Linked DNA regions of Homo sapiens. The protein of the gene in region 2 interacts with the protein of the main gene of each other region in a pairwise test. Each region holds a gene or a part of one and is shown on either strand. Other genes may lie near its edges. The genes, in order: SLU7, DEF6, GOLGA6A and KIAA1328.

What was found.
Region 1: the proteins of DEF6 (region 2) and SLU7 interact in binary tests that used the Homo sapiens proteins (3 or more experiments, as listed by UniProt).
Region 3: the proteins of DEF6 (region 2) and GOLGA6A interact in binary tests that used the Homo sapiens proteins (3 or more experiments, as listed by UniProt).
Region 4: the proteins of DEF6 (region 2) and KIAA1328 interact in binary tests that used the Homo sapiens proteins (3 or more experiments, as listed by UniProt).

Annotation. Positions count from the first base shown.
Region 1 is NC_000005.10:160,408,362-160,416,756, forward strand, and holds part of SLU7 (pre-mRNA-splicing factor SLU7), read right to left. Parts: intron 6,950-8,395; coding exon of another isoform or gene 6,934-6,949; coding exon 6,764-6,933; intron 6,112-6,763; coding exon 5,958-6,111; intron 5,619-5,957; coding exon 5,538-5,618; intron 5,260-5,537; coding exon 5,095-5,259; intron 4,159-5,094; coding exon 4,090-4,158; intron 337-4,089; coding exon 289-336; intron 100-288; coding exon 1-99. UniProt on the Homo sapiens protein: Required for pre-mRNA splicing as component of the spliceosome. Participates in the second catalytic step of pre-mRNA splicing, when the free hydroxyl group of exon I attacks the 3'-splice site to generate spliced mRNA and the excised lariat intron.
Region 2 is NC_000006.12:35,307,421-35,315,815, reverse strand, and holds part of DEF6 (differentially expressed in FDCP 6 homolog), read right to left. Parts: intron 6,147-8,395; coding exon 6,006-6,146; intron 5,358-6,005; coding exon 5,172-5,357; intron 3,603-5,171; coding exon of another isoform or gene 3,515-3,602; coding exon 3,278-3,514; intron 3,191-3,277; coding exon 3,044-3,190; intron 1-3,043.
Region 3 is NC_000015.10:74,068,690-74,073,278, forward strand, and holds the end of GOLGA6A (golgin subfamily A member 6A), read right to left. Parts: intron 4,129-4,589; coding exon 4,053-4,128; intron 3,621-4,052; coding exon 3,529-3,620; intron 2,968-3,528; coding exon 2,865-2,967; intron 2,782-2,864; coding exon 2,678-2,781; intron 2,589-2,677; coding exon 2,435-2,588; intron 2,349-2,434; coding exon 2,221-2,348; 3' UTR 1,168-2,220; downstream 1-1,167.
Region 4 is NC_000018.10:36,825,095-36,833,521, reverse strand, and holds the start of KIAA1328 (protein hinderin), read right to left. Parts: upstream 4,396-8,427; 5' UTR 4,384-4,395; coding exon 4,326-4,383; exon of another isoform or gene 2,370-4,325; intron 2,356-2,369; exon of another isoform or gene 134-2,355; intron 1-133. Other genes in the region: TPGS2 (tubulin polyglutamylase complex subunit 2), read left to right, coding at 4,755-4,839. UniProt on the Homo sapiens protein: Competes with SMC1 for binding to SMC3. May affect the availability of SMC3 to engage in the formation of multimeric protein complexes.

The DNA.
Region 1 (8,395 bases), on a different chromosome or scaffold from region 2:
GACAGTAATTCGTCTCTTGGAGTCAAAATTCTGTCCAGGCATGTCAATATCATCTGCATATTTATCTTCATCCTCATCTTCACTATTATGATCTTTTTCCTAAAAGAGGGAGAGGAAGGAAAAGTAAGAAGAAAAGAAAGCAGCATGTAGTTCTTTTTTTTCCCCTTTCCCTTTAACCAAACCCTTATTTACTTGTGTTCTTTAAAAGCTATTATTAGTGTTATTTATTATTAGCCATCAGAAATTTAAAAATTTAACATATACTCAGAGACAGCAAATATGTATTACCATCTGAGAATTTGGTTCCTCTTCTCCCCACTGGTGTTTTGGAGAATTCTGCATCATGAAAGAAGAAAAATCATTCATAATCTCATTCCACTTAATCCAATTAACTTTATTATTAAGATAATAAAGTATTATTATCTTATTATAAATAATATATTTATATAATAAAATATATTTTATTATATATTATATTTATATTATATATAATAAATATTTATTATATAATATATAATATGTAACTTATAAATAAGTATTAAGATAATAAAACTTAATTCTAACTGAACAAACTCTCACACTTCTCAGTTATAATGAGCGCAAAAATTCTGAATACAAGAGTGCCATTGTAAATAATTTTATTACACTGTCTATAAAGCCAGCAAATTTCAAGAGAATTTTAATTAAGATTATAACCACAAAATGGTAACAGAAAGATTAAGATGTCCAAAGTACCCAATAAATATTAATTTCTAAATGTGTTAGTCTTCAGACATACTGTATTCATTAAACGTTACTAGTTTCCTAGTAAGTCCAAAAAGAAAATATTACTGGGTTCATGTCTTCACAGCCAAAGTGAAGTTTGGGCAATGAAAAAAATCTACAAGTGACACAGTATTGTAATTTAAGGAGAGGCCAAACTCCTTGTCACAAGGATACACTTTTCTTCGCTAGCAATTGGTCAGAATACTTTCTAACTCCACAGAATGCCTACACTAACGTGGTATTTCATCATGTCCCTTCATAAAGGCTTCAAAGATTAAAAATACTTAAAAAAAAAGAGAATACATTATAGCATTAGTGAGGAGATGCAGAAACACGTGTATGTATATATACTATATAGATGGAAGCATAAATCTGCATGGCTTTTCTGAATGATGGCTAAGTGATATGTCATAAAAATTTTAGAAATACAAACTCACTGAAATACACTTCTAGAAGGTTATCCTAGTATCATGTCAATTATATAAAGATGTATAAGAATGTGATGTGCAGTGTTGTATATGTGCAATGTTTTTTCAAAACACTGGGAAAAAATCAAATTAATAGATCACTGGTTATATAATGTATTGCACTCCATGGAACACTGAACGGCCATTAAAAGTGATTCTATCCAAGGGGCAGAAAAGTATGTATCGTTTCCTAACTTTTTTGATTAAAAAAAGGGGAGGGGAGAGACAGATAGGATAAGGGTATATATTTGTATTTGTATTTATTCAAGACAGTCTGAAAGGAGCCACACACATACACAAAAGAGTTGGGGCGAGGGGAAGTTTAGTGTTAGGGTGGATAGAAACAGGGGTGGAGAGACTTCGCTGTGCATCTTCTTAAATTGTTTTAATTTTTGAGCCATGTGAATTCATACAAAAATAAATGATGCTATAGGTCTATAAATATAGACAGAAAACACGTTCCCACTGTACTCTATGTTGTTAAATTAAAAAAGAAGGTAATAAATGAATATATAAAGATGGATTCATGTAAGAAACATTTTGTATTCTAGCACACATGAACAGGTATATGTGGACAAGAGAGACCTGGAAAGGCCTACTTCAAAATGTTCACAATTAACACAGGGATATTTTCTTTTTTATATTATGTTCTAATTTTTTTCCACTTAATATGTGTTACTTTCAAAATTAGAAATATAAATATTTTGTAAAAAATAATTTTTTTGAGTTCCCACTATTTGCTAGTTCACCAAAGACATTTACATACATTTCTATAGTGACAGCTAAGTCTCTAAATCTACTGTATGTGGTTCATCTTAATATCCAAGCATCCTGGGAGCGGGGAGAGATAGCATTAGGAGATATACCTAATGCTAAATGACGAGTTCATGGGTGCAGCACACCAACATGGCACATGTATACATACGTAACAAACCTGCACGTTGTGCACATGTACCCTAAAACTTAAAGTATATAAAAAAAAAATAATCCAAGCATCCAAGTGGGCAAAAATCATTAGCCCCTTACATACATTAAGTATCCTTACTGGGGAAATAAATTACATTACGTTTACAACAAACAACAGAGAATACATTAGAACAAAAGAAACAGGCCCTTTTTCTTTTCCCAAAGTTAGTAATAAATAAAAATAATCACAACAATAATAGCTACTAATTACCCAGTGTTTACTATGTGATATGTATATAAGCTTCCTGGGGGTAGGTGTTATCATTTCTATTTCAGACATACTAAACTGCAGCTCAGAGAGGCAAATTCACTTTTTTTTTTTTTTGAGACGGAGTCTCACTCTGTCGCCCAGGCTGGAGTGCAGCGGCATGATCTTGGCTCACTGCAAGCTCTGCCTCCTGGGTTCACCCATTCTCCTGCCTCAGCCTCCCGAGTAGCTGGGACTACAGGCGCCCGCCACCGCGACTGGCTAATTTTTTGTATTTTTTAGTAGAGACGGGGTTTCACCGTGTTAGCCAGGATGGTCTCGATCTCCTGACCTTGGGATCCACCCGCCTTGGCCTCCCAAAGTGCTCGGATTATAGGCGTCAGCCACCGCGCCCGGCCGGCAAATTCACTTTTCTAAGAGCATGTATGTCTCATGGAGCAGAGATGGATTTTGTTATTGATTGACTGATTGACTGATTGATTGAGATAGAGTCTCGCTCTGTCATCCAAGCTAGAGCACAGTGACGTGATCTCGGCTCACTGCAACCTCTGCCTCCTGGGTTCAAGCGATTCTCCCGAGTAGCTGGGACTACAGGTGCTCGCCACCACACCCAGCTAATTTTTGTATTTTTAGTAAAGATGAGGTTTCACCATGTTAGCCAGGCTAGTCTCGAACTCCTGACCTCAGATGATCCACCTGCCTCGGCCTCCCAAAGTGCTGGGATTACAGGTGTGAGCCATTGTGCTCGGCCAGAGATGGATTTTAAACACCTATCTGGTAACTTACAATGTTAACTTGCCTGGTAGGTTACCTTAGTAACTCGGTAACTGCTTACTTGGTAATTATTTCAAGTTCTGTTTGCTTTGTTACTTATACATGGTTTAGAGTCCCTTTTAGAAATTTAAACTAAAAAACTATAAATGTTTACTATTTATTTGTGCCTAGATTTGTTAAAAAGAAACTTGACAACTCTAATATGCATAATATATTTACTCTATTGACAAGGATTTTTAAAAAAGAAAAAAAAACTGGCTGCAATAGACCTTTCATTCATATAAAAAATGTTTTGCCCAGTTATATAACTAATACATATTCATTGTGGGAAATGCAGAAAATACTAAAGAAATAGAAAGAAAAATTCATAAATTCTACATTAAATAAAAACTAGTGTTCTGGTCTTTTTTTCTGTGTGATAATATTATACTATCTTTTCATGTATTATTCAAATACAAGTGTTAACCAGTGTTGTTAATGAAGTCTTGAGAAATGCCATTTTAAGAACTACACAGCATTACACCATGCAGATGCACTTAACCAATTCCCTGTTCCTGGACATTTAAGCTATTCCAATTTCTTTACTATTGTGAAAAATGCTGTACTATCTTTATGCATCATGATTTTTCTAAACTCTAGAAAATTCTTTAGGATGGATAGCTTTAATAATTTAACTTGAAAAAGTAAATGTTTGTGTGTGTCTAAATATAAATAGTGGCAATATTGTTCCCAAACTGACTGCATCAATTTATATTACTATGAACTGTATACAAAGTATCAGTTTTATTTTTCCCCCAATAGCATTTCTCTCTTCCTAACTGAAGAGCTATAAAATGAATTCTTGTTTCAATTTTCATTTCTTTGTTTAAAAGAAATAAAACCTTTTTATTGATCATTTTCATTACTTACAGCCTGTTCCACTAATTTTCCTGAGGCTAATTCCTCTTGGAGTTTCTGGGCTTTCAATGTTCGTTTTGCCTTTAAAAAAAAAAAAAAGAAAGAAAGAAAGAAAAAGTAAACATTTAAATTTTACTTACAACATTCAAGTCACCACCTAAATTTTTATATATTTAAAATGAATAACTTTAAATTAATTTATTTCAGAAAAGGTCACTGAACAAACCTATCTCTTTGGGATTCCTTGTAGCCCTAGACCTATTACTCTATAAAGAGCAGGAGTTACACAGTGTTTGAACCAGGCATTAATGTAAACTGAGCCAAATGGCATCAGTAGTAAATTGCAGGGAGCAAGCCCTGACAAAAACAAGCAGTTGCCACAGAACTCTAGATGACTGACTCTTACCAGGCAGGCGTGGGGTTACCATATATTACAATATTCAAGAAAAGATGAAATCCAGATTTTTATATGAAATCTTATAATTTTAAAATGATACCTCTAATTAAAAAAAAAAGGCAGTGTGACTATGACTTCAAAGGAATAAGGGTGAATAGGTCAAATCATAACAGTAAAAACTGAAGTTGGGTTAAAATAAAATAAAATTTTCTGAAACAAATTATCCATTCCCTTTCTACTACTCCCAAATGCTATGGGAGGCAACTATAAAATAGGTTCATGGGCAAGCTATAGCTTGGGGCCATACATTTCTAACCTCACAAAACCAAAAGCTTTGGACACTAATCTGTCTTCATGCTTCCAATATCTTTTGCTACCTAAGTCAGGGAGTAAAGGACCAATATAAGAATCAAATAAGAAGAAACTGCTGGCAAGTATGGCTAGCACACTATTTCCTTTACTCAATATTACAATTATAAAGGTAGCCTATACAGTAGTACTACTATTATAAAAATGCTACCATTTTTAAAGTGCTTCAAGATTTGAAAAGTAGAGCTGCTAGAGATACAGCAAAAGGACGATTCTTTAAAAACCCCAGGAAAGCAGGGAATTTTGCTCACCAAATCAACTTTGGCATACTCTTCAACAATTTTCATGTGTTCTTCTGGATTGTAGCCATTCCACCGATCCCTCTTCCCATCATAGTCAAACATCAGTTGAGGCTGGACATGTTCATCTGGAGCTATATTAGTACCTGTAAATTTGGCTCCAACTCGCCTAGGTCTCTAAAAACAGAGTAAGATTTAATCTTTTCCTAAGTTTTTATGGCCCAAAGGAAAACTTCATACAACTTTTACAGAGTGGGCACTTTACGATCTATTCAATTTACAGTTAGTCTTACAGTAGAAAATTTTGTTGGTGTTGAACCAATTCCACTGAAACTAATTTTTATTTAACTTGTACCTAAATATAGGTGATTTCAGAAAAAGAGAAGTTAGCTCTCTGACAAAGAAAAAAGAAAGACTCTGACAACGGTTTTCAAAATTTTCAAAGGTGAACTTACCTCAAAGCAGTCTTTCTTTTTGTGTGTCATGGCCCCACAATTTTCACATGCTCCTTTGCGGTACTTAGTAATTATGGAATTCTATAAATATATATAAAGAAAAACAAAAATGTCTTAACCACGTAAGTTAGAAATAACTTTGACTCTCATTACTATTTTGTCTAGGGAAATGATTTCTTTGTTAAAAGGAAAATAAGTTAGAGTCTCCACACATTTATAAATGTGAAACTTTAAAGAGTTCAGGAGTGTAAAATTTATATAAGAAACACAAAGATAAAATAGTAATGCACTGTGAATTTCAATACCAGATAAAGGGTTTTATTATCTGTTTCTACTTTAAATAGTATTGCATTAAAAATTCTTACATTAAGTTCTTAAACTCTCCATATCCATGAAGATGTATACAGGTTGCCTACATACCTCTTTTACACCCCTCTTGTACCATTCTCCAGATGAGCTGAACTGCTTTTGTTTTTCTGGTTGTGGTCTCTGGTGTTTTAAAGTAGGTCTTTTTGAAGGATCAATATACCATGGCACTGAAGAAATATACTGAGGAATATGGGGGTTGATGTCTCTGTAATTAAAGTAAAAAAAAAAAAAATTTAAGGATAAAATTGGAAAATAATCAGTATTACAATTACAAAGGTAGCTTATACAAAATCTAAGAACAGAAATATTGCAGTGGTAGGGGGAAGAGAACAAGGTTGCTATCTCTATACTATAATAAAGAATAATTAAAAATAAAGAAGTAATTTATTTTAGAGTGAAAATATTTCCAACTAAGAAACTAAGAATAGTGATATAACTGAAGGGGGACAAGAGAGGAAGGAAAATAGAGATGTGTGTTAGTAATCTAAATCTTCTATCACAAGAAGTTTTGGTTCAAATAATGTCTATAGTCAATTAATTAAAATAATTGTGTAGGTATTATTATCTAGAGATGTGACGGTAACAACCAGAAAAACTCAAAATAGAAAGATTTCATAGCAGTCACTTCTGTAGAGCAGGCCAGGGGTGGGAACGGTAAAAAAGGACTGTTGCTATTCATTATAAGCCCTTCAACATAATTTCATTATTAAACCATATGCATATGAGTTTGATAAAATAAAAAACAAAAATGACATAAATGAAGAGAGGTTCCTCTCAAAGGATGAAAAATTAATAAACTAAGTAGACATGAATTTGAATTCTGAATGAATGGATCATACAAAAAATTAAGTACTTACTTTCCTTCTTCATCAACTTCTGCAGGAGCATTGCCCAATTTTCGCTGTTCTTCTAGCTCCTTCTTCTTTCTCCAGTCCTCTCTGGTCATCTTCTTTGGTTCTTCCAAACTCATTTCTTTGGACCCCGATAGGGGTGCAGCATTAACTGCATCTACAACTGTGGCTGACATGGTTATCTGGCCTCCTCTAGGAAAAGAAGTGAAACTTACAGTAAAAAGTAGGCCTTCATGAATTCACTCAAACTACCAAAAATACATCCTAATAATATATACTGTTTCATATGTTTTTTTTTCTCCTATATTATGTGTAAGGAAGGGTCTCTTCCCCCTCCTCAAGGTCTCTACATACTGTTAGCACTGTTTCTCTCTCAACTCCAATTTACAAATGGAGAGAGACACACACGTGTATTTAAAATTTCACAGGACTCTTTTCTCATATCCATCCTTAATCCCTCTTTCTGTGTATGTCTCAAACTTTTCTAACACAGTAACTCTTAATGAGAGAAAAGAGGGTCCTATCTCTGTACCCCTTCAAGAATGAATATCTCAAGAGTTATCTATATTCACTGCCTCCATTTCCTCACCTTCTATTTTCATCCTCACTCACTCTAACTTAGCCCTCCATTCCCTACCATTCTAAAGAAAAGAGTTACATCATTAAGTCATCAAGGACCATTGTGCTAAATCCAATGGACATTTTTCAGCTCTGTTCCTTCCCTTTTTATATATTATGTCTTGACTTCCCTGACACTACATTCTCTTGGTTTTTCTTTTTCTTTTTTTTTTAGAGACAGAGTCTCGCTCTGTTGCCCAGGCTGGAGTGCAGTGGCATGATCTCAGCTCACTGCAACCTCCGCCTCCCAGGTTCAAGCGATTCTCCTGCCTCAGTCTCCCGAGTAGCTCGATTACAGGTGCCCGCCACCATGCCCGGCTAATTTTTTCGTATTTTTTGTAGTGACAGGATTTCACCACACTGGCCAGGCTGCTCTCAAACTCCTGACCCCAGGCCATCTGCCCACCTTGGCCTCCCAAAGTGCTGGGATTACAGGCGTGAGCCACTGTGCCTGGCCCTCTTGGTTTTTCTTGTACCTCTCTTGTCATCAAATTTTGCCCAGTTATTTAATGTTGGATTCCTCAAGGCTCAGTCAGCACCTTTTAAGCCACTCTAAACTCCCACTAATGGATAAGCTCATTTACTTCCAAGGCTTCAATGGTCACAATACAACACTGCTGGCTCTCCAACTTATTTTTCTATAAAATAAAAAATAATAAAGGAACAACGTATTTTTCTATTCAAGACTTTTTATCTGAGCTTCAGATACATATATCCAATTGCTTACTTGACATCTCCACTTAGAGGCCAGAGGCATTTAAACTCAATACGTCTTAATTCAATCTCATGATCTTCCCTCTGAAATCTAATCTCCTACTCTTCCCTATCTTAATGAAAGACAACACCATCCGTCCCTTTACATTAAGTGCTTCAGCTTATCCCTACATCTATCTCATCACTAAGAACAGTTATTTTCACCTTTTGAGTATCATTCAAATGCATCTACTTCTTTCCATTCTTACTGCTACCACCCTAGTGTAAGTTATTACTTTTTCCTACTTACTGGACTCTTCTGATTCC
Region 2 (8,395 bases):
AATGAATTCAGTAAAGTTGCAGGATAATTCAACATACAAAACCCAGTAGCATTTGTATACGCTAACAGCAAACAATCTGAAAAAGAAGTTGAGTGCAATCCCATTTCCAACAGCTACAAAGAATGTAAAATACCTAAGAATCGATGTAACCAAAGTGAAAGATCTATACAAGAAAAACTATAAAACTGATGAAATAAATTGAAGAGGATGCAAAAAAATGGAGAGATATCCCATGCTATGTATTGGAAAAATTAATATTGTTAAAATAACAATATTACCCAAAGCAATTTATAGATTTGGTGCAATCTCTGTCAAAATAGCAAAGGCATTCTTCATAGATATAGAAAAAAAATCCTAAAATTTATACGGAACTACAAAAGACCTCAAATAGCCAAAGTAAGCCTGAGTAAAAAGAACGAAGCTGGAGGCATCACATTTCCTGACTTCAAAATACACTACGAACTGGCCACGGTGGTACACACCTATAGCCCCAGCTATTCAGGAGGCTGAAGCAGGAGGATCCCATGAGCCCAAGGAGACTGAGGCTGCAGTGACCTATGATCATACCACTGCACTCCAGCCTGGACACCAGAGAAAAATCCTGTCTCTAAAATAAAACAAAAAAACAAAATGTAGTACAAAGCTATAGTAACCAAATCAGCATAGTACTGGCATAAAAAGAGACACAAAGACCAATGGAACAGAATAGATAACCTAGATATAAATCCATGCATTTACAGAGAACTCATTTTTGACAAAGGCTCCAGGAACACACAATGGGGAAAGAACAGTCCTTTCAATAAATGGTTCTGGGAAAACTAAATAACCACATGCAGATGAATGAAACTAGACCCCTATCTCTCACCATATAAAAAAATCAAATAAAAATGGATTAAACATTTAAATGTAAGACCTGAAACTATGAAACTACTAGAAGAAAACATTGGAGAAATATTCCAGGACATTGGTCTGGGCAAAGAGATTTTTTGTGGAAGACCTCAAAAGCATAGGCAACCAAACCAAAAATAGAAAAATGGGATTATGTCAAGCTAAAAAGCTTCAGGACAGCCATGGAAACAATCAACAAAGTGAAGAGACAACCCACAGAATAGGAGAAAATATTTGCAAAGTATCAATCTGACGAGGGATTAATAACCAGAATATATAAGGAGCTCAAACAACTCTGTAACAAAAAACCAAATAATCCAGTTTAAAAATGGGCAAAAGATCTGAATAGATATTTCTCAAAAGAAGACATACAAATGGTCAACAGAGATATGAAAAAATGCTCAATGTCACTAATCATCAGAGAAAAGCAAATCAAAATTAAATGAGATATCATTTCATCCCAGTTAAAATGGCTTTTTACAAAAAAAATAGAGAACATCTTTTTTTTTTTTTTTTTTTTGAGATAGAGTTTCACTCCTGTCACCCAGGCTGAAGTGCAATGGTGCAATCTTGACTCACTGCAACCTCCATCTCCAGGTTCAAGCGATTCTCCTGCCTCAGCCTCCTGAGTAGCTGGGATTACAGGCGCCCACCACCATGCCCGGCTGATTTTTGTATTTTTAGTAGAGATGGGGTCTCACCATGTTGGCCAGGCTGGTCTCAAACTCCCAACCTCAGGTGATCCACCAGCCTCGGCCTCCCAAAGTGCTGGGATTACAGGCATGAGCCACTGCGCCTGGCCAAGAATATCTTTTCTGTAAAAAGATGCTGGAGAAGACGTGGAGAAAGGGGAACCCTGATAAACTGTTAGTGGGAATATAAATTAGTACAGCTACTATGGAAAACTGTATGAAGGTTCCTCAAAAAACTAAAAATAGAACTATCATATGATCTAGAAGTTCCACTGCTGGGTATATATCTAAAAGAAAGTAAACCAATATATTGAAGAGATATCTGCCTTCCCATGTTTACTGCAGAGATATTCATAATGGCCAAAATATGAAATCAACCTAAGTGCCCAGAAGTGGATAAATAGATTAAGAAAATGTGATATATATAATATTATTCAGCCATAAAAAGAATGAAATCTTGTCATTTGCAACAACATAGATGGCACCATAGGTCATTTTGTTAAGTGAATAAGCCAAACACAGAAAAACAACTATCGCATGTTCTCACTTACATGTGGGAGCTAAAAAAGTGGATCACATGAAGATAGAGAGTATATTAGTGGTACCAGAGGCCAGGAAGTGTGGGGGGAGGACAAAGAGAGGTTGATGAATGGGTATAAACATACAGTTTGACAGGAAAAATAAGACCTAGGATTCAATAGATCAGTAGGGTGGCTACAGTTTACAATAATCTATTGTATATTTCAAAATAGAAGAGAATAATTTGAATGTTTCTAGCATAAAGAAATATTTGAGGTAAAGGATACCTAATGACATGATTTGATTTTTATAAAATATATGAATGTATTAAATTATCACATGTACCCTGAAAATATGTACATCTGTTATATATCAAAAGAATTTTTTAATTTCATGAATGTATTTAATGCCACTGAATTGTACGCTTAAAATAGTTAAAATGGGAAGTTTCATGTTACACACACATATATACATATTATTTAAAATAGTAAAGACGCTTGTGTTTTAAGCCTCTAAAATAGTGATGAACACAAGGGAGGAAACAGAAGGGGAAGACAGAGGAGAGGGGTATGGAAGGAGAATAGGGAAGTACAGAGTTGCTAAAGGGAATGGAATATGGGTGAAGAAGAAAAACCTTTAAAAGGGATTTTTAGAAAGATTTGCTGTGTAGTATAGATATAAGCCACTTCCTCTGAAATCTTGAGCAAATTCCATATTATTCACCAATTACTTTGGTGCTTGAGTTGCAGTTTTAGTTTTAAGTGCTGACGTGGATGAGAATGGCCTTGAGGCATCCGGATATATTTGGGTCACACTAATCTAAGCAGGAATTTGTGTCACTGTGGCTTTTCTCCATTTGCCCCTCTCCTGACCCCCTTGTCTTCTCATGCCCCTGAGGACACTCTGGGCCCTGAGATGTCCTCCACCCCCATCCTGCCCCTCACCTCCACGCAGCAGTGTGCATCCAGCGGGATAATGCCCCTTTTCTCTTTGCACTCTTCACTCCCAAAGTAGCAGAGGCAGCTGGGCTGCAGCTGGAACCAGCGTTCGGCCCAGTTCCTTCTCAGGTGCCCTCGCTTCCACAGGTAGCCCTGCCAGCCGGAGTTACGTCAGAGGCTTCCCAGGCCCCCCTTCGCCCTGCACCTTGTGTGCTTCCCCTAGTTCCCAGCTTGCCTGACCTGCTTCAGGACATCTTGGATGAGCTCCTGGTAGACCTCGTGGATGGCCATGCTGAGGGTGTCCCGGCCCACGCCCCGCAGGCAGCGGCCCGAATTGAAGAGCTCCAGGAACTGCCAGACGCTGAGCCCCCCGGTGGTCTGGGCCACCTGGGCCTCCTGGGCCAGAAGCTCCTCCAGCTCACCCAAGCTCACCTCCAAGCTCATGCTGCTGAGTACCTTTTTCAGCAGGTATTCCACCTGGAGCAGGAGAAGGAAGGCCTGGTAGCTGCAGCAGGTGGTGTTGCCAGCACCAACACCAGGGAGTGCTCTATCTGGCTCCCAGAGCCTGGGCAGAGGGAAACAGGGGACAGAGCGTTGAGGGGGCCAGAGGACCGAATGTTATGGAGCCAGGGAAAAGACCTGGGAGAGGATCCTGGAGCCCCAACCCCAACTCAGGTTTTCTCTCCCCGTCCACAACCTCCAGTCCCACTCCTTCCTGTCTTAAGGGCAAGGTGAAGGGGACCTGAGATCTGGGGTCCAGAAAGAGGCAATAAATCACAGAAAGTGTCAAGGGAGTGCAAAGGCCCTCTCATCCAATCACTCATTTTGCAGATGACCAAAAAAAAGCCCAAAGGGGGAAGTGACTGGCTCTAAGTCACACAGCAAACTGGGGGCAGCCAGAACCCGATTCTGATCTCCTGAATCCCATTCAGGTCCTTATTCCAAGCCCCAATCCCCAACCCTGGGGATCTTTCCCTTGTGGGAGAGGAAGGGGATTTGGGGTAGGGGTAGGCGTTGGGGAGTGGGGAGTAGAGGTAAGCTGGGCAGGGACAGGAAACCTGTTACAGAGGAACCGGAAGTGGTGGCTGGGGTACATCCTGCTGCAGTTGTTAACTCTGTATGTTGATCGCAGAAGCAAACAACCTCCTGGCCTCCGAGGCCACCTTGCCCTGACTGGCAGGGGTCTAACAAGGGCAGCCAGCCAAGTGTATGTGCAGATGGACACATGTCCCTCACCTGCCCCAGCAGCTTTTTGGGACACTCTGTTTAGGACTTTCTGGGGGATCCTGGGTCTTGTTTGGGTGTTTAGTAGAGGGCACTGGTTCAGGGCTCGGGTGGTTCCCTTCATCACCCTTCCCACAAACAGAAGCCAGGACAAATGTGAGTGGAGCTTGACATGCTAGGGCTTCTTGTAAGTACAGAAGCCCCCTCTCCTGTAAACCCCACTCTAAAGACCTAAAGTCACCCTGGCATCTCCACAGCCACCAAGAGGACTAAAGGGTCACAAGGCCAAATGGGCAGGGGAGGGAAGTGAGGATAAGAGGGAGGGTACAGGTGGATGGGAAAATGCCTTCCCTGGCTTCACCCAGGAGTAAGGAGATAGGGACCAGATTCCCAGCCTTTTCTCCCAGGATGCCCTATCCCTGGGTCTCTTAGCTGAGTTTGTCCTGGCTTTCCAGAAGAAAGGCAGAAAGGGAAAATCTGGAACCAGAGTAACCTCCTGTCTCAGAAAGGTCTCCCCTTGCCTTGTAAAGCATCCTTCCTGTCCTGGAAGAAGTGGCAAAAGGTAAAGGAAAAAAAAGCACCCTTCCTAGATTGCCAGTAATGCTCAGTAATGTATCTGGCATTTAGACCTCTGTGTAAACAGAATTTGCAGATCATTTTCCTACAGTGAGGACCAGCAGAACCCTCATGAAAGTGTAATTTCAGTTTTCCTGGAAGAAGGCAAAATTACTCTGACACAGGCAGTTCTAGGCATCTGGAGACAGCTGGGTGAGGACAGATACCAGCATGGGAAGATGGTAAAGAAAGAAAGGGGATATGGGAAGGCACCAAAGGTGGTTTGGTCTCATTCATGGTTTTGCTTAGGTCTGGTCCCAAGTGATTCAGTCCCTGGGGCTGCCATCACCCTCACCTCATCAGGAACCATGATCAGAGGGTACTTGTCCTCAGACAGGAAGTTGAAGAGGCACCAGAGGCGGAAGGCATCCTGATTGGAGAGCATACTGTTCCCGTTGCTATCTGCCCGATAGTTCTTCTTGGCCGTCAGCGTCCAGCACAGCTCATCAAAGTGCTCTTTAACAAAAGCCCCCTCCTCCACCTGCCACCAGGGCTGCAAATCAGCTGACTGCATATCTCAGCTCTACCACGACACTAGGCTCCAGCTGGGTTTCTTGGGTTCATCTATGCCCCTGCTCCCCACCTGGCCAAGTCCAGGGCCCTAACTCAAGGGATCCCTGAGCTGATTACCAGGTAACTAGCTGGTTCCAACCACTCCACCCTCCACAACACACCCACACCCACCCAGGCCCCCTGACAACAGATTAACTCTAGTCTTTCAGCCCAGAGGACAAAGAAGGAGAAACCCAGCAGGAAGCTAAGAGCCAAGAACCTGGAAACACAGTGACAGATTGGAGGAGTTGGAGGGGGAGTTCAGGGGGACAGTCTGGGAAGGGTGGAGAACCCTGGAAGCTGGAGGAGGGCCGGGCAGGGATTCGGTGGAAGGTTATGGGTAGGGTGGGGCCCACCTCATTAGAGATGAGGGACATTGAAGGTGAATTGAGGGGGACAGGAAGGGGGCAGGTGGCTGGGATGTGAGGGACGTGATGGGACAGCAGTCACGGACAGAGCAGGCAGAAGTAGGAGTTTATGGCAGGGGCGAAGAGTTGGAGTGGCAAGGTATTAGGCTGCTGGCCAGGCTGGAAAAGTGGGGAGAGGTTACAGATGCTCCCTACAAGCTGGGCCCCACCTTGTCCAGGATGTACTTGTTGAGGTAGGGCATGTATCCCTGGCTGGACACAGGGCCGTCATCATCATCTCGGAAGTGTTCCTCCAGGGCCACGGGGTCATGGGGGATGTGCAGGACCGTGTACAGGTTGTGGGACAGCACCTGGGATAGAGTAGAGTGGCAGTGTGTCTTTCTGCACCCCAACCAAAACTGGGCCAGAGGACTGCTCCCCACCTCTCTGCTTGTCCTCACCCCATCCTGGCTGAGTTCTCTACACACACTGTTCAGTTCAGTAATAACTAAAACTTATATACTATGTGCCAAGCACTGAGCTAAAGTACTTTACATATCATTTGCTTAACCACCATAACAACTACTCATATACCCATTTTACAAATGAAAACTCCTGCAGCCCTGAGATATTTCTCACCCAAGGTCACAGCTGGCAGAACTGGAATTCAAACCCATGCAGTTATACTCTTAGCCACTTCATTAGGTATTGGTGTCCTCTTTCTACAGACAGGGAGACTGAGGCTCAAGGGATTCAGTAACTTGCCAAAAGACCCACACTGAACAAGAGCTTGGAGTTCAAATCCATCTCCATCAGATTCCAAAGCCCAAGTGCTTCCCACAATGCTAGACAGTTTGCAGGGTTTGCAGGGACTTAGTCTGCCACCCCAGGGCAGAAGCTGCCAATTTATCATGGTTTCCATCAAAGACTCAGTGTCCTGGCTGCAGTGTGCCTATCACCTAAGCGTGTCTGCTCTGGGAGAGGAGAGGGCTCAAAGAAGGGTCATGAAAAATGGTCCATGACATGGAGAGGGCAAGGCTTAGAAGGGATAGTGGTCATAATGGTGTGCAGGGGAAATGTGGGTTTGTTGAACAAATCCATGATATTAGAATAAAGGGGTTGAAATCTGAAATCTGGTGAAAATAAAATCTCCTTGGGGTAATTCTATTATAGCATTTGTCACAAGCAGTGTAAATGATTAAAAAGTCACTAGTTACTATTGCACACTTACCATATGCCGGTCACTGTAGGAGGTGGTTTATTTAATTAAAACTGTTTTTTATTTTATTTTATTTTATTTTATTATTTTATTTATTTTATTTTATTTTATTTTATTTTATTTTATTTTATTTTATTTTATTTTATTTTGAGACGGAGTCTTACTCTGTCACCCAGGTTGGAGTGCAGTGGCATGATCTCAGCTCACTACAACCTCCACCTCCTGGGTTCAAGTGATTCCCCTGCCTCAGCATCCTAAGTAGCTGGGATTACAGGCACCCACCATCACATTCAGCTAATTTTTGTATTTTTAGTAGAGACAGGGTTTCACCATGTTGGCCAGGCTGGCCTCGAACTCCTGTCCTCAGGCGATCCGCCCACCTCGGCCTCCCAAAGTGCTGGGATTACAGGCCTGAGGCACCATGCCCGGCCAAAACTTTTTTTTTTTTTTTCGGTAGAGACAGAGGTCTGCATATGTTGCCCAGGCTGGCCTTGAACTGCTGGCCTCAAGTGATCCTCACATCTGGACCTTCCAAAGTGCTGGGATTTCAGGCATGAGCCACTACACCCAGTCAAAGCGCTTTTTATACCCCATTTCTAGTCTTCACAATCACCTATATACGCAAATATTATTAAGCCTGTTTTTCAGGTGAAGACACAGAGGTTTGGAAATTTTAAGAGTAAATGGCAGAGCTGAGGTTGAAACTAAATGTGCCTGGTTCACAGGTTGCCTTCCTACTAGAATACTGATGTCAAGTCTCCCTCCTCCGTTGGATTGTGAACTCTGGAGACAAGGTCTCTGTTCATCTTTATGTCCCTCAGCATCTATGTCCTCTTTTGTACATCAAGTGCAATCAATACATGCTATATTGAAGGGCTTCTTCCACCACCAGCAGTTCACCTTGGAATCAGTTCCTAGGAGGCAGGAGCTAGCACTGTCTCGGAGATGGTGTGTGTGCCAAGCCTTCATTTTATTCTCTTTTCAGAGAGGAGGGGGAGAAAGTATTGAGACTTTGCCTCAGTGTCCTCCTGGGGCTCAGTTTTCCTTGGCAAACTGGGAAGTGGGAGATCCCAGGAAGGGAGTATTTCCTTTTTTTCCCTCATTTCCCTCTGGGCAGTTATCCCTGGAGTTTTTGGTTATGTGAGCCAATAAATCCCCTCTCCCTTAAGCCATTTGAGTTTGGTTTTATCACTAATTCCAGGAAAGTCTTGCCTAACACATCTGTGGTCATAGAATACCAATCCCCACTCTAAGGGGTGCCACTGGCTCAATGCCTAGCACTTAAAACCCAGGGTGACCACCTCAAGAGAATAATGCCAACATCCACTGACCACTTCTGAAGTGACAAGTGTTCAAGTTTTATATATTCTCATCTGCTGTCTCTTGGCCTCTTTTCAAACT
Region 3 (4,589 bases), on a different chromosome or scaffold from region 2:
TGGCTAATTAACAGTGGTATGATTTCTAGCCCGAGGGTCTAAATTGGACTCAAACTGTCTTTAAACTGAACTCAAAGAATGCAAAAGTGGCAAGTTCAGAAAATAAAAGGCAAGAACAGGACTTGAAGTCCATTTTAAACCCTCGGGCTAGAAATCGTCCTACTGTTAATTAGCCACATTCGTTGGTCTAACAGTTTTTCTTTATAATTCTGGAACTGAGTTTATCTAATACATTGATAAATTCATACAATTTGGAAGAGTCAGTTGAAGTCACAAGGACTTAATATTTGCACTCTTTCACTGAATGCAGGCACATCTGTTATTCCATCTGTAAAATCGTATTATTGCTCTCCTATTAATGTCATATGTATAAAAGTATCATGAGGATGCCAAATGCTAAAAATGGAGATGGTCTAGTAACTAGAAATGCCCACCCCAGGGAGCGCACACACATCTCTCCCTGCATCCTAATACTGTGACGTATTTTGGAACACAGACATTAGAACTTCATGAACTTTTAGCTGTTGATTCTTTCCCAAGCATCTTAAAGTTATGATTTAGGCAATGTATGACTGAAATAATTCACTCATCACGTATAGGCACATTAACATAAATATGGCACAAAATATGCCTCTAACTGAAACTGAGAGGTATAAAAACATATTTCACTCTTTGTGAAGAACTTTGTGAGGAAACATAAGTCTGTCATTGTATAGACACTTTTTCTCATAATACTTGGACATTCACAAACATTAGATTGCACTGCAGCTTGTAAACATTTTAAGTTGCATAAACTTCGCCTTGATTTTCATGTGTAGTATAATACTGTCTACTAAAACTCCTTTTTGTTTCAACTAAGTACTCTCACATATATTGGTTTATAATAATGGTTGTTATTATTTTTAAAGTGTTTTCCATTCAAAGAAAAGAAGTAAATTCCTATGTCAGAGTAACTAATGTGGCTGAAGAATAGGTATTAGCCAGAGAGGTCTAGATGATAAAATCAATCTTCTAGCCTCAAAGAAGCTCCATGAACATAGAGGAAGGCCAGGTGTCACACAGCTTTCCTTCACTCGAATTCATTCTTGACTAGAGCCTGTATGCCTCTTCCAGGGACATTTAAACTCTTAAAGGATTTCTTATGATCTTCACTAAATACCTTAAGAAGAATGCCAACCAGTGCCCTTTTGTGTACTGGGACATATACTCGTGATTAAAACAGGTAACATGAACTCTGACTTTAAAATGTATTGTAGATATAAATGCTCTAAGCTAGAAAAGGTTTTCCACATCCACAGTCAATGATGGGAGCCTTTCATTCCTCAGAAATAATCCCTTTTTAGGTCATCAAGAAAGGGTACAACTGCTGCAGCTCATGATGCAATATCTTCATGAGCCCAGAGCACATACAAATCCTAAGGGAACTACCATAGTACAGCGCTCATTCTTGGCACCAGAACAAATGAAACACACTCTATCCTGCACACACCTGCCAGAGCAGGCCACTTTCCTCTTCTGTGAGATTTAAAAAGCTCCCCAAAATGTTATTACTCCCATCCCCAATACACAGAAAATAGGGAAAAGGCTGTTTCCAGTTCTTGGCCTTTAAACAACTCTAAATGTCAGTACTCACAGTGGCATATTACAAAGTAATAAACAGTGCTCAATTGAGGGCAAACCACATATTGAGCTAATGAAGAGCTCACTGTGGTTAGGATTCGATCAAACGTAATAGCAGAACATAAGCACATTTTATCTGAATTCTGGAATGAATATACATGCTGCAATAACATTAAAAAAGCATGGCAGCCTGTTCCAAACCAGCCAGAATAGTTTTGTGCAAATTAGTGGGTCTTTGTGTGTTTGAATTCCCACCACCTAAGGGCAAACTCGATATGCATACTAATGACCTACAATTATCAAATTAAAAATAAAAATGCTAAAGGATGCCAGAAAGAACATCAGGGAAAGACCAACTCTCCCTTAACTTTTTACAAATAAATTTAAACGGTAAATTAGAAACACAAATAAATGTGAGTGGCTCTAGCATTCAAATGGAGTAAATGAATTGTGTAGGAGATGAACCCCGTAACTTTTTGTTGTTGTTGTTGTTTTAAATTTCTTGACCAGCTCTTAGAAGATGATGATGTTTATCTCCCTGTTCTCGGCTGCCTGGTAGAAGAATGGCACGCAGGGTTTGCTGGGCAAGCCTGGGTGCTCCTAGGTGTCCTGCATGACAGGAGACAGCTGCACGATCTGCTGTACAGTGGGGTTGTCATGGGGAGAACCCTCCCTGGCCGCTCCTGGTGCAGGCTCCACGTTGTTGTCCAGGCTCACTTCATAAAAAACTTCGGAGAGAGGGAGGCGGGGGTCTGAGCACAGTGCGAGCCTCCCCTGCCCCTGCCTGCCCACCCCGCCTGAGAGCTCTACTCACCATCCTGCTCACCGGCAGCCCCAAGTTCCTGGGGGGCTGGGGCCCCTGGAGTGGGCTCATCAGCAGGGTTCTGGGCAGCGATGAGGAATTTGCCATGCCCCTCATGGTTGCCCACAAGGGGCAACACCAACTCTTGCAGCTCCAGCAGCTTCACCTGAAGGGAGGGGTGCTCAGCTCCCACCCTGGAGCCTGCACCAGCGCCCATGCCCACCCCCAACCCCGCAGAGATGTTGCACGCCCTACCTTCATCTCCTCCTCCTTCTGGGCCAGCCTGATGACATCCTCCATCTCCTGGTGCCGCGTGTTTGGCACTGCCCCCTGGCTTTCATATACGGTGAAGGACTCTCCTGTGAGAGGACACAGCTCAGACACTAGGGTCCCTCCGACGGCCCTGCAGCTCCCCGTGCCCGTGCCCTGGCCTCCCGCTCACTCATGCCGTCTGTCACTCCAGAAGGCTGGACGAATCCAAGCTCTCGTCTCTCCACCTGCTCCGTCCCGTCCGCCTTCTCCTTCGGGAGGTCCATAAAGCTGCTCTGGAGCCAAAATAATGGGGTCACATCTCGGGAGTGACCTGTTCTGCCCCGCCCCCACTTTTCTTGGCCCATGCCAGGACTCACTCCCTTTCAGCTTCACCATGGCCTCCTTCAGGGCCCGGTAGCTCTCCCCACACACAAACTCACCCCCACTCCCTGGGGCTGGGGCCTCTGCCTCTGGCTCCTTCCAGGCGAAGGCCAACAGATGAGCCAGGTGCAGGCAGCACAGCCTTCACACCTTCCGCTGCCCACATAGCCGTGCCTGCTCCTCCTGGGAACTGGCTCCAGCAGAGGTGAAAAATGCCACTTGAAGGCAAGAGGTGAGTATTCTTGTAGGGGCATAGACAGAACAAATGAGGCAGGGAGGTGGAGAACAACCCCTTCCCTTGGGGCCTCAGAGAGTGCACCTGTTGGTCACAGGTGACAAAGTGTCTGACCACTGGCTCCCGGAAGGGGTGAGGGGCCAGAGCAATCAGAAGGTGGGAAAACCAAGAGCATAAGGGGGTCTGGGAGGGACCACAGAGGAAGGTGGCAAAGCGGGGCAGGGAAAGTCAGGCTCACCGTGGCCTCCCGGCTCTCCAGGTCCTCTGGGATGTTTGGCGTGGGCCGAGGCGCCTCCTCCTCCTCACTGTCCAGATGTTGTCCTCCATCTCCTGTAGGGAGGTGGCCAGAGGGGTCCTCAGACAACCCAACAAGGGAGGTACTGTGGGCCCACCTCTGTCCCCACCCTGACTGTGTAACCCTGAGCCAGCCTCTCCCCAGAGGGGAGTGAGCTGCTGTTCTTTATTTTTCCTTTTAAGAACCAAGATCTTGCTATATTGCCCAGGCACAGTCCCACTACCGGTCGGTGCGGGAGTCCTGACCTGCTCCCTTTCTGATCTGGTCCAGTTCATTCATCCTTAGGCAACCTGGTGGCCCCCTGCTCCCAGGAGGTCACCATATTGATGCTGAACTTAGTGCGGACACCCGGTTGGCATAACGACCAGCTGTTCTAAAGGTCTCTTCCAACCCCTCAATCCTATGCTGCTAACAGTCCCCCCTTCCTCCTGGGGCTCTCTCCTCTTCCTCTGAGTGGTCTCCTGTACCTTCTCCAGGGAGAGCCACGAGGCTTAGCTGGGTCTCTAGCTGTTGGTTCTGGTGGCTGGCAGCTTCTAGGTGCTCCTAAGGGGACGGGAAACAGAGTGAGAAGGCACGGAGGTTGCCAGGTCATCCCCCTCGGGGCCCCGTCCTCAGCAACTCCCTCCCCTGGGTCTCCTGCAACTTTTGTCCGGCCATCTCAGCCACCGCTTTGCCCCAAGCTTCCTGCTGCTGCAGCTGGTCCACGAACTGGGTCTGCAGCAGTAACTGCCTGTGCAGCGCCTCCTTCTCAGAGGTCAGCTGCTGATAGGTGGCCATGTACTGCTGCAGGTGACCCAGGTACTAGTCTCGCTGCTGCTGCAGACTCTGAGACTCTTGGCTCTTCAGCTCCACCTGCAGGAAGACCCTGGGCATGAGGGCACATGGCGGCTGGCTTCCAGATTCTGGGCCCATTAATAGGGTAGCGAGGGCACCGTGGGGCTCTGTCACCTGCCCAGGACCCTGGTCCCTTGCTCCAGGCCTAAGAGGCTTCCTCCCTTGCCTAG
Region 4 (8,427 bases), on a different chromosome or scaffold from region 2:
AGTATTAACAACAGCCTGCAATGCTCAAGATCTGATCCCTGTAACTTGTTACATCTCTGATCTCACTTGCTACTATTCCTCTCACTCATTCCTGGCTTTCTTATAATTGTTAACAAGCTATGCAAGCTCCTACCTTATAGCTTCTGCAGGTATGATTTCTTCTACCCAGGAAGCTCTTTCCTCAAATATCTTCATGGCTCACTTTAGGACTTATGTCATATGTCATGTCATGTCACCTTCTGATTGAAGCTTTCACTTCCTAACCATATAGGTACTTGAAATTGCAAAACTCTCTCTTCCCACAACCTACCTACCTCCCGCTACTATCTGCCTCTTTCCTGCTTTATTTTTTCTCCACAGCACCAATATCATTGAACATAGGCCAGGTGCAGTGGCTCACGTCTGTAATCCCAGCACTTTGGGAGGCCGAGGTGGGCATATCACGAGGTCAGAAAATCGAGATCATCCTGGCTAACACGGTGAAACCCTGTCTCTACTAAAAATGTAAAAAAAAAAAATTAGCCGGGCATGGTGGCGGGTGCCTGTAGTCCCAGCTACTCCAGAGGTTGAGGCAGGAGAATGGTGTGAACCCAGAAGGCGGAGCTTGCAGTGAGCTGAGATGGCACCACTGCACTCCAGCCTGGGCAACAGACCGAGACTCTGACTCAAAAAAAAAAAAAAAAATCATTGAACATATATTTTCCTTATTCATGACCTGATCTCATCTCACTAAAATGTAGGCACCAAGAGGGTAATGATTTTTGTTTTATTTTGTTCAGTGTTGTACCCTCAAACATAAAAGAATGTCTGGCTCCATCTATGAAAGAATAAAATTGGTATTGATTTAATTTTATGAGGTGTTGTCCAACAACCTTATATGTTATATTTCTGTGATTCTAAATATGCAAACAAAACTTTTTTTTTTTTTTTTTTTTGAGACAGAGTCTCGCTCTGCCACCCAGGCTGGAGTGCAGCGGTTTGATCTCAGCTCACTGCAACCTCCACCTCCTAGGTCAAGCAATTCTCTGCCTCAGCCTCCCGAGTAGCTGGGATTACAGGTGCCCGCCGCCACACCTGGCTAATTTTTTTTGTAGTTTTAGTAGAGACGGCCGTTTCATCATGTTGGCCAGACTGGTTTTGAACTCCTGACCTTGTGATCCACCTGCTTTGGCCTCCCAAAATGCTGGGATTACAGGTGTGAGCCACCGCAAGCGGCCAACAAAACCTTTTACTTTCAGCTACATCCATGACAAATTTATTTTCAAATATATAAAACTCTAAACAAACTACTTCAATATTTTTAATAACAATATTTGAAATTGCCTCTATCCTTTCTAATAATTTGTAATGTATTTTCATCTCATTATATTAAGAACCCAAATATTTACCTCCTTCAAATCTAGAATTTCCCAACAAATGTATATTTTATGGGGAAGTCAAACAGACACATTATATACCAAATGTATAGTGGGCCTACTAGTGGGTCATTTCTAGATTATTTATAATACCTAAAACAATGTACATGCTATATAAATAGTAGTTAAATTGTACAGTTTAATTTGTATTTTTTTGTGTGCTATTTCTTTTTTTTCTCAAATATTTTCCATCCACATTTGAATGAATCAGCAGATACAGAGGGCTAACTGTAATTAGAAACCCAGGCAGAAGTGGTAGAGAGGAAGATGCACCTCTATCCCAGACCTCCAGGATTTGAAGGAAATAAGTTCAGTACTGCCCATTCTACTCTAATCTGCTGAGTTTTGCCAGCAATACATGTATATGTAATTATTATCAACCACAGAGACTTTCTGGGCTAATATATTATTTTTACCACAACATACAGTCTTTGTTTCCATTTGAAAACTCAACAGCAGAGATTATACTGCAATGTTTTGACCAGGTCACTTGCAGTTCATATTTTTTAATATCAAGTCCATGATATTGCTAATGGTAATACACTTGAGTGCATTTAAGCAGTCAAATTTAGGTACTGCTGAAACACTAACTCATTCTGACATTACTAGGAACTGTAATGAAGGACAAAGGCAACTTAAACTGAAGGAGCATATTTTGCTGGAAGATTTAACCCATAACATGACAACACCACACACTCATTGTTTACAGATGAGGTACTAAAACGTTCCTTGTGCAAAACAGCACTGCTGAATCATACTGTGCAGGAGATGTATAACTCACAACAACAACAATAAAAAAAAAAGGTGCCATTGAGTCACAGATGATCTGTCCTCTCATGATGGAAACATCAAGGACTAAGAAATCTCTCCATCACATTTCTCTAAATGTTTAGGTGAAGTATTGAAAATCTTTTTTCAATAGTGTGAAAAGAATACCAGATTATAGGTACTTACTTTTTGGTCTTTTTCTATTGAAAATTCTACTATAAAGGCTCTAGGGTGGTCTGGGAAATAATCAATATGACAAAGGAATCAAGATGCAAAGACATGTAACTAAATCAAATGATTAATAACTATCATTATGCTTTTCAGCAAATATTCAGTAACAAATTTACATTTGACATTGCTTACAGTGACATTCTCTATGGAGATTTAAAATGAAAATATCTGAGGCTCGATGTTAACTGGTCATTACGTGGAATAGTCTGAGGGGAAAGGTGACACTAGCAACTTTGCAATTCCTTTCATACATCTGAATTAGATCTTATAGGATATAATCGCCACCATTTTTCCCCTGTACAATTTCAATTCCTCACTATCTATGAGAGGACGAATATTTTACATTAAATGTTGGGAGTCAGAATACAAGAGATAACGGAGTATATATGACTTCTACATAAAATAGGGGGTGATATAACTACATGAGTAAGTGAAAGTACTGGGTGCGAAGACCAAGAGCTTAGGTTCAGTCCATATATCTATTAATACACTTATTCAGTCCCATTGCAATAGCTTGTCCCCCCCCCAAACCATTGATTCTATATTTGAACAGTACCATAGGATGCTATAAGCTAATAACCTTCAAGTATCTCCTCCATCACAAAATTATGTCAATGCAGAAGCAGTGTTTCTTGAGAAAAGACTTATCCCAATTTCCTAACTTCCTAATTCAGCCCAGTTGTCCACAGTGCACATATTCTCTTCTGAAAGGTAAAGGAAAAAATATTTAATTTGCACACTGCACTAGTATGCTTTCATCCACAGTGTATGTACATGATTTCATTTGCTTTTCACCAACCTATCAGAGACAAATGGTAATTATGTCTAGTAAGTGCAAACACTAAACACGAGCAGCACAGAATACAAACATATCCCTCTCTCTACACATGACACTAATCCTAGTAACTCAACAAAGGAGTTGATAACACAGTTTTGTAAGTTTCACTGGGAGCTAAGAAGAATGCCCAGTGATTCTGCCAAAGGTAACAGCAACGCCTCAATTAATGCCATCACCAATCCTAGCAAACACAAAAAGAGCTGCCTCTGCAAGCACTCAGTAACACAGATTGCCGTCCCTCTTTCAAGTAACCCCTCTAAGGAACGTGAAGTAAATTATCAGGACCAAAGCTCAAGCGAGAAGAGTCTACCTACTCCAAGGAAAGAAACACTCCTGTCACACAAACATCTCATCACTGCTGCTGAACTGGTAATACTACCACTGGACTAAAAAGTTCCACTGCTTCTCCACCTCACAACGATCCAAGAACTTCAATGACTGCCAGTGACCCGCACTCCACAAGTAAGTCAACAATACTTCCAGGCACAATGATTCCCATCTTACGCAGTAACCAGCACCACCAGACCACATCCCAGTAACCAAGCTCCACACCTCTCCTAAAACCCCAGTATTAAAATACATCATCACTGGAGGGCCTTTTAAGTCCGAAAGGTCCTGACTTGCTCCTAGCAATGCAGACTAAAGACAATCCTAAATCAAAACAAAAAGGCTCCCTGTCCAGCCAACACCGACTCCTCCCTCAACTTCGAGCTAGCTCCGCACACTCAAGTCAGCCTGGGGGCACTCTGACAGGGTGGGCAGAGGGACCTCGGAGGGCCATCTCAGCCCTGGACTGAGCCTGGACTCAAGGCTATCTTTCTCGAGCTCACCGGTAGTGAGCGCTGGGAAGCATCTGAGCCGTGTCCCCACACCTGCAGACAGTACCAGTCTCTCGGCCACCTAACACCCAAGCAAGGGGAGAGCCCAGCACCTAGACTGGGGCCGAGCAGCACGTCCCCATCCCCGGGGTTAGTTCGGAGCTTCTCCTCCGCTCTCGGACTGCCACGCGACGGCTCGCCCCTCGCCGTCCCGTGGAGGGCGCCGGCGCCCCCTGTCAGGCGGGCAAAGGATACAGTCCCGGCTCCAGAACGCCGCGGCACTGGGGCGGGAGGGGCCCGCCACGTCCGCCATCTTGAAACAACCGCCACTCGGGGCGTCGCGCCTGGGCCGCCACGCCTCGGCCTGCAGGCTCGGTCCCCATTGGCCGCACCACGCAGAGGCCCGCCCCCGCCTGCGCGGCCGGCCCCTGCGGGGCGAGAGGGTGGGGGCGAAGGGGAAGCTACGTCCCGGAGGTGCGGTGTGGGGCACCGGGCGGGGCCGCGGGAACCGGCGCCCCACGGAGCTGCTGCTGTCAGACCAACCCCGGGCCCCCATCATCACTGCGCCGCGCTTTCAGGCGCCGAGAACTACCGTTCCCGGCATGCCATGAAATTGGCCTCGGCGCTGAGGCGGGGTCCGGCCCTCCACCCGCTCCCGCCGCGCGCGAATCGCGGTCGCGAGCCATGGAGGAGGAGGCATCGTCCCCGGGGCTGGGCTGCAGCAAGCCGCACCTGGAGAAGCTGACCCTGGGCATCACGCGCATCCTAGGTGAGGAAAGGGGGCACGGTGCCGAGAGGGTGTGGAGGAGAAGGAAGGAGGAGCGGAGGGATGAGGTGCGGGGTGAGCGGTGCGACGCTGGCCCCAGAACAGGAGTGGACATCGCTGCTGGGACTTCCGTTGTTACAGAGGAAAGTGGGGGACCTGGGTTTGTGATTAGGCCTTGAAAGTGTTTGCCAGGAGTGTTCGGAGGCAGAGCTGGGAAGCCTGAAGTTTCCCCCACTCACCGCCAACCAAGGTCCCACCCAGGAAGGACGGGCAGAGACGTGCAAAGGGAACACAGCAAGCACCTGACGGTTGGGAAGTTGGATCTCCCCCTAGGAGGCATTCTCAGCCAGGGCATTATCCCCGAAACCCAAGACCTTTCTCTGGGGGAAGTAATGCACCCGACCTCCCAGGGCGACAACTACGTCGGGTCTGAAAGGAATCCAACCTTGCACCACTGAATGACTCAGAGTTTTTCTTTTATCGAACATTTCTTTGTTTGCTTGCTTGTTTGTATTTTGAGACAGAGTTTTGCTCTTGTTGCCCAGGCTGGAGTGCAATGGCGCGATCTCGGCTCACTGCAACCTGCGCCTCCTGGGTTCAAGCAATTCTCCTGCCTCGCCCAGCTATTTTTTTGTATTTTTAGTAGAGACAGGGTTCCACCATGTTGGCCAGGCTGGTCTCGAACTCCTGACCTCAGGTGATCCACCCGCCTCGACCTCCCAAAGTGCTGGAATTACAGGCGTGAGCCACCGCGCCTGGCCTATCAAACGTTTCTTTAGTACTCACCACTATGTTAGACGTGAGGTTAAAAATATGAAAAAGACACAGTTCTGTGAAAAAAATAAACAAATGAGGTCACTAGGAGTGTGAAAAGAGGTCAGTAATCTGTTACTCAGAGATGTCACAGAGGAGGGGACTGATCTTACCAGGGAAGTTAAAGAACATGTCACAGAGGAGATGATGCTAGATTTTGAAAGACATATAGGAGTTAGCCAGAAAACTAAGGAGGAGAAAGGTCTTTTAAGAAGGCTGAAAAGCATGCTTCAGTGCCTTCCCATCACAATTATAATAAAATCCAAATGTCTGTACCATGACCCACAAGTCCCTGTAAGATCTGCTCTCATCTCTTTCTGACTTTGTTTCCACTCTTGCCCACATGGCCTTCTAGCTGTACCTTAAACACACTAAGCGGGTTCCTGCTTCAGGGCTTTTGCAGTTTGCTAGTCCTTGCACCTGGAATTATCTTTCTCTGAATGTCTCGCTTCTTCAGGTCATTCAGATCTCTGATCAAATGTCATTATTTCAGAGAAACCTTCCCTGAATATAGTTCGAATAACCGCCGTCTTTCTTGCTCTCTCTTTCCTTACCCTGCTTTTTCTTTTATTCTTATAGCACTTTCACTACTTGAAATTATGTATTTGTTTGGTTGATTTTTAAAATTTGTGTCTCTTTTAATAGAAGTCCAAGACCAAGTGTGATTTAGGAATGAGTGGTTTTAACATATGAAAATCAATTAATAGCTGGGCATGGTGGCCCATGTCTTTAGTTCCAGCTACTGGGGAGGCTGTGGTGGGAGGGTTATTAGAGCCCAGTTCAAGTCCAGCTGGACAACATAGCAAGACCCTGTCACTAAAAAAAAAGAAACTTAAAAAAAATCAATTAATATAATACAACTTACTAATAGAATAAGACAAAAACTGCATAATCATCTTAATAAAAAAAGCATTTGACAAAATCTAACCTTTCTTGATTAAAAAAAACTCAACAAACTAGAAATAGGATGGGATAGAGATAGAATTTCCTCAACCTGATGAAGGACATCTATGAAAAACCCACATCTAACATCATATGTAATGGTGAAAGACTGGCAGCTTTCCCCTTAAAATCAGGAACAAAAATTGTATTAGGGTTCCCCAAGATCACACCAGATTCAATGATTTGACGCAAGGATTACAGGACTCAGGAGATAGTCCTACTCATGGCTATGATTCATTACAACAAAAGGATTTTGGCAGCCCGATTGGCAGACCTTTCTGAGGATTATTGTCTCGGGCCTGCTATGTTCACTCTTTTCTGCATGGCAAGAATTCCACTTTTATCACTTCTCTTCAACATTGTACTGGAGTTTCTAGCTAGGGCAATTAGGCAAGAAAATGAAATAAAGACATCCAATTGAAAAGGAAGAAGGTAAGCTATCTGTTTGCAGATGACATGATCTTGTATATAAAAAATCCTAAGGAATCCACACACACACACACACACACACACACACACACACACAGCCTATACACCAGCAATGAACAATCCAAAAATAAAACTAAGAACAATTCAATTTACAATAGTATTGAAAAGAATAAAATGTAGCTGGCACAGTGGCTCACACCTGTAATCCCAACACTGGGAGGCCAAGGTGAGAGGATTGCTTGAGACCAGGAGTTGCAGACCAGCCTGGGCAACATAGCCTTTATGAAATATTTTAAAATTAGCCATGTGTGGTGGTGCATGCCTTAGTCCTAGCTACTCAGGAGGCTGAGATAGGAGGATTGCTTGAGCCCAGGAGTTCGAGGCTACAGTGACCTGTGATCACACCACAGCACTCCAGCCCGGGCAACAAGAGTGAGACCCTATCTCAAAAAAAATAAAAGAATAAAATAGGAATAAATTAACACAAGATGTCCATGACTTATGTACTGAAAATTACATAAGACTGTGGAAAGAAATTAAAGAAGACCAAAATAAATGAGAAGACATACCATGTTTATGGATTGGAAGAGTTAATATTGTTAAAATCTGTTACTCCCCAAATTGATCTACAAATCTCACATCTCCAGTTCCCATCAAAATCTCAACTGTCTCTTTTGTAGAAATCAGGAAGCTAATTTAATCCTAAAATATAATATAGAAATGCAAGAGACCCAGAGTAGCCAAGATAAACTTTTCTTTCCAAAACAGGAAAAAAGTTCCTCTTACTCACATTTCCCTATACTATATTTGAGATGATGGAAAAGTTCTGGTGATGGTTGTACAACAGTGTGAATGTACTTTATGCCACTTAACTGTACACTTAAAATTGACTAAAATGATGATTTTATGTTATGTGTATTTTAATACAATTTAAAAAATTTAAAGCCACAGTTGTCTTCAGAGTGGTAGTGGCATAAAACTAGAAATGTAGATCAATGAAATAAGATTGAGAGTCCAAAAATAAACATCATATTTATGATTCATTGATTTTTTTTTTTTTTTTTTTTTTGGAGACGGAGTCTCGCTCTGTCGCCCAGGCTGGAGTGCAGTGGTGTGCTCTTCACTCGCTGCAAGCTCCGCCTCCCGGGTTCTAGCCATTCTCCTGCCTCATCCTCCCGGGCAGCTGGGACTCCAGGCGCCCACCACCACGCCTGGCTAATTTTTTGTATTTTTAGTAGAGACAGGGTTTCACCATGTTAGCCAGGATGGTCTCGATCTCCTGACCTCATGATCCACCTGCCTCGGCCTCCCAAAGTGCTGGGATTACAGGTGTGAGCCACCGTGCCCGGCCTGATTCATTGATTTTTGACAAATATGTTAAGACTTCTCAATGGGAAAAAATAGTTT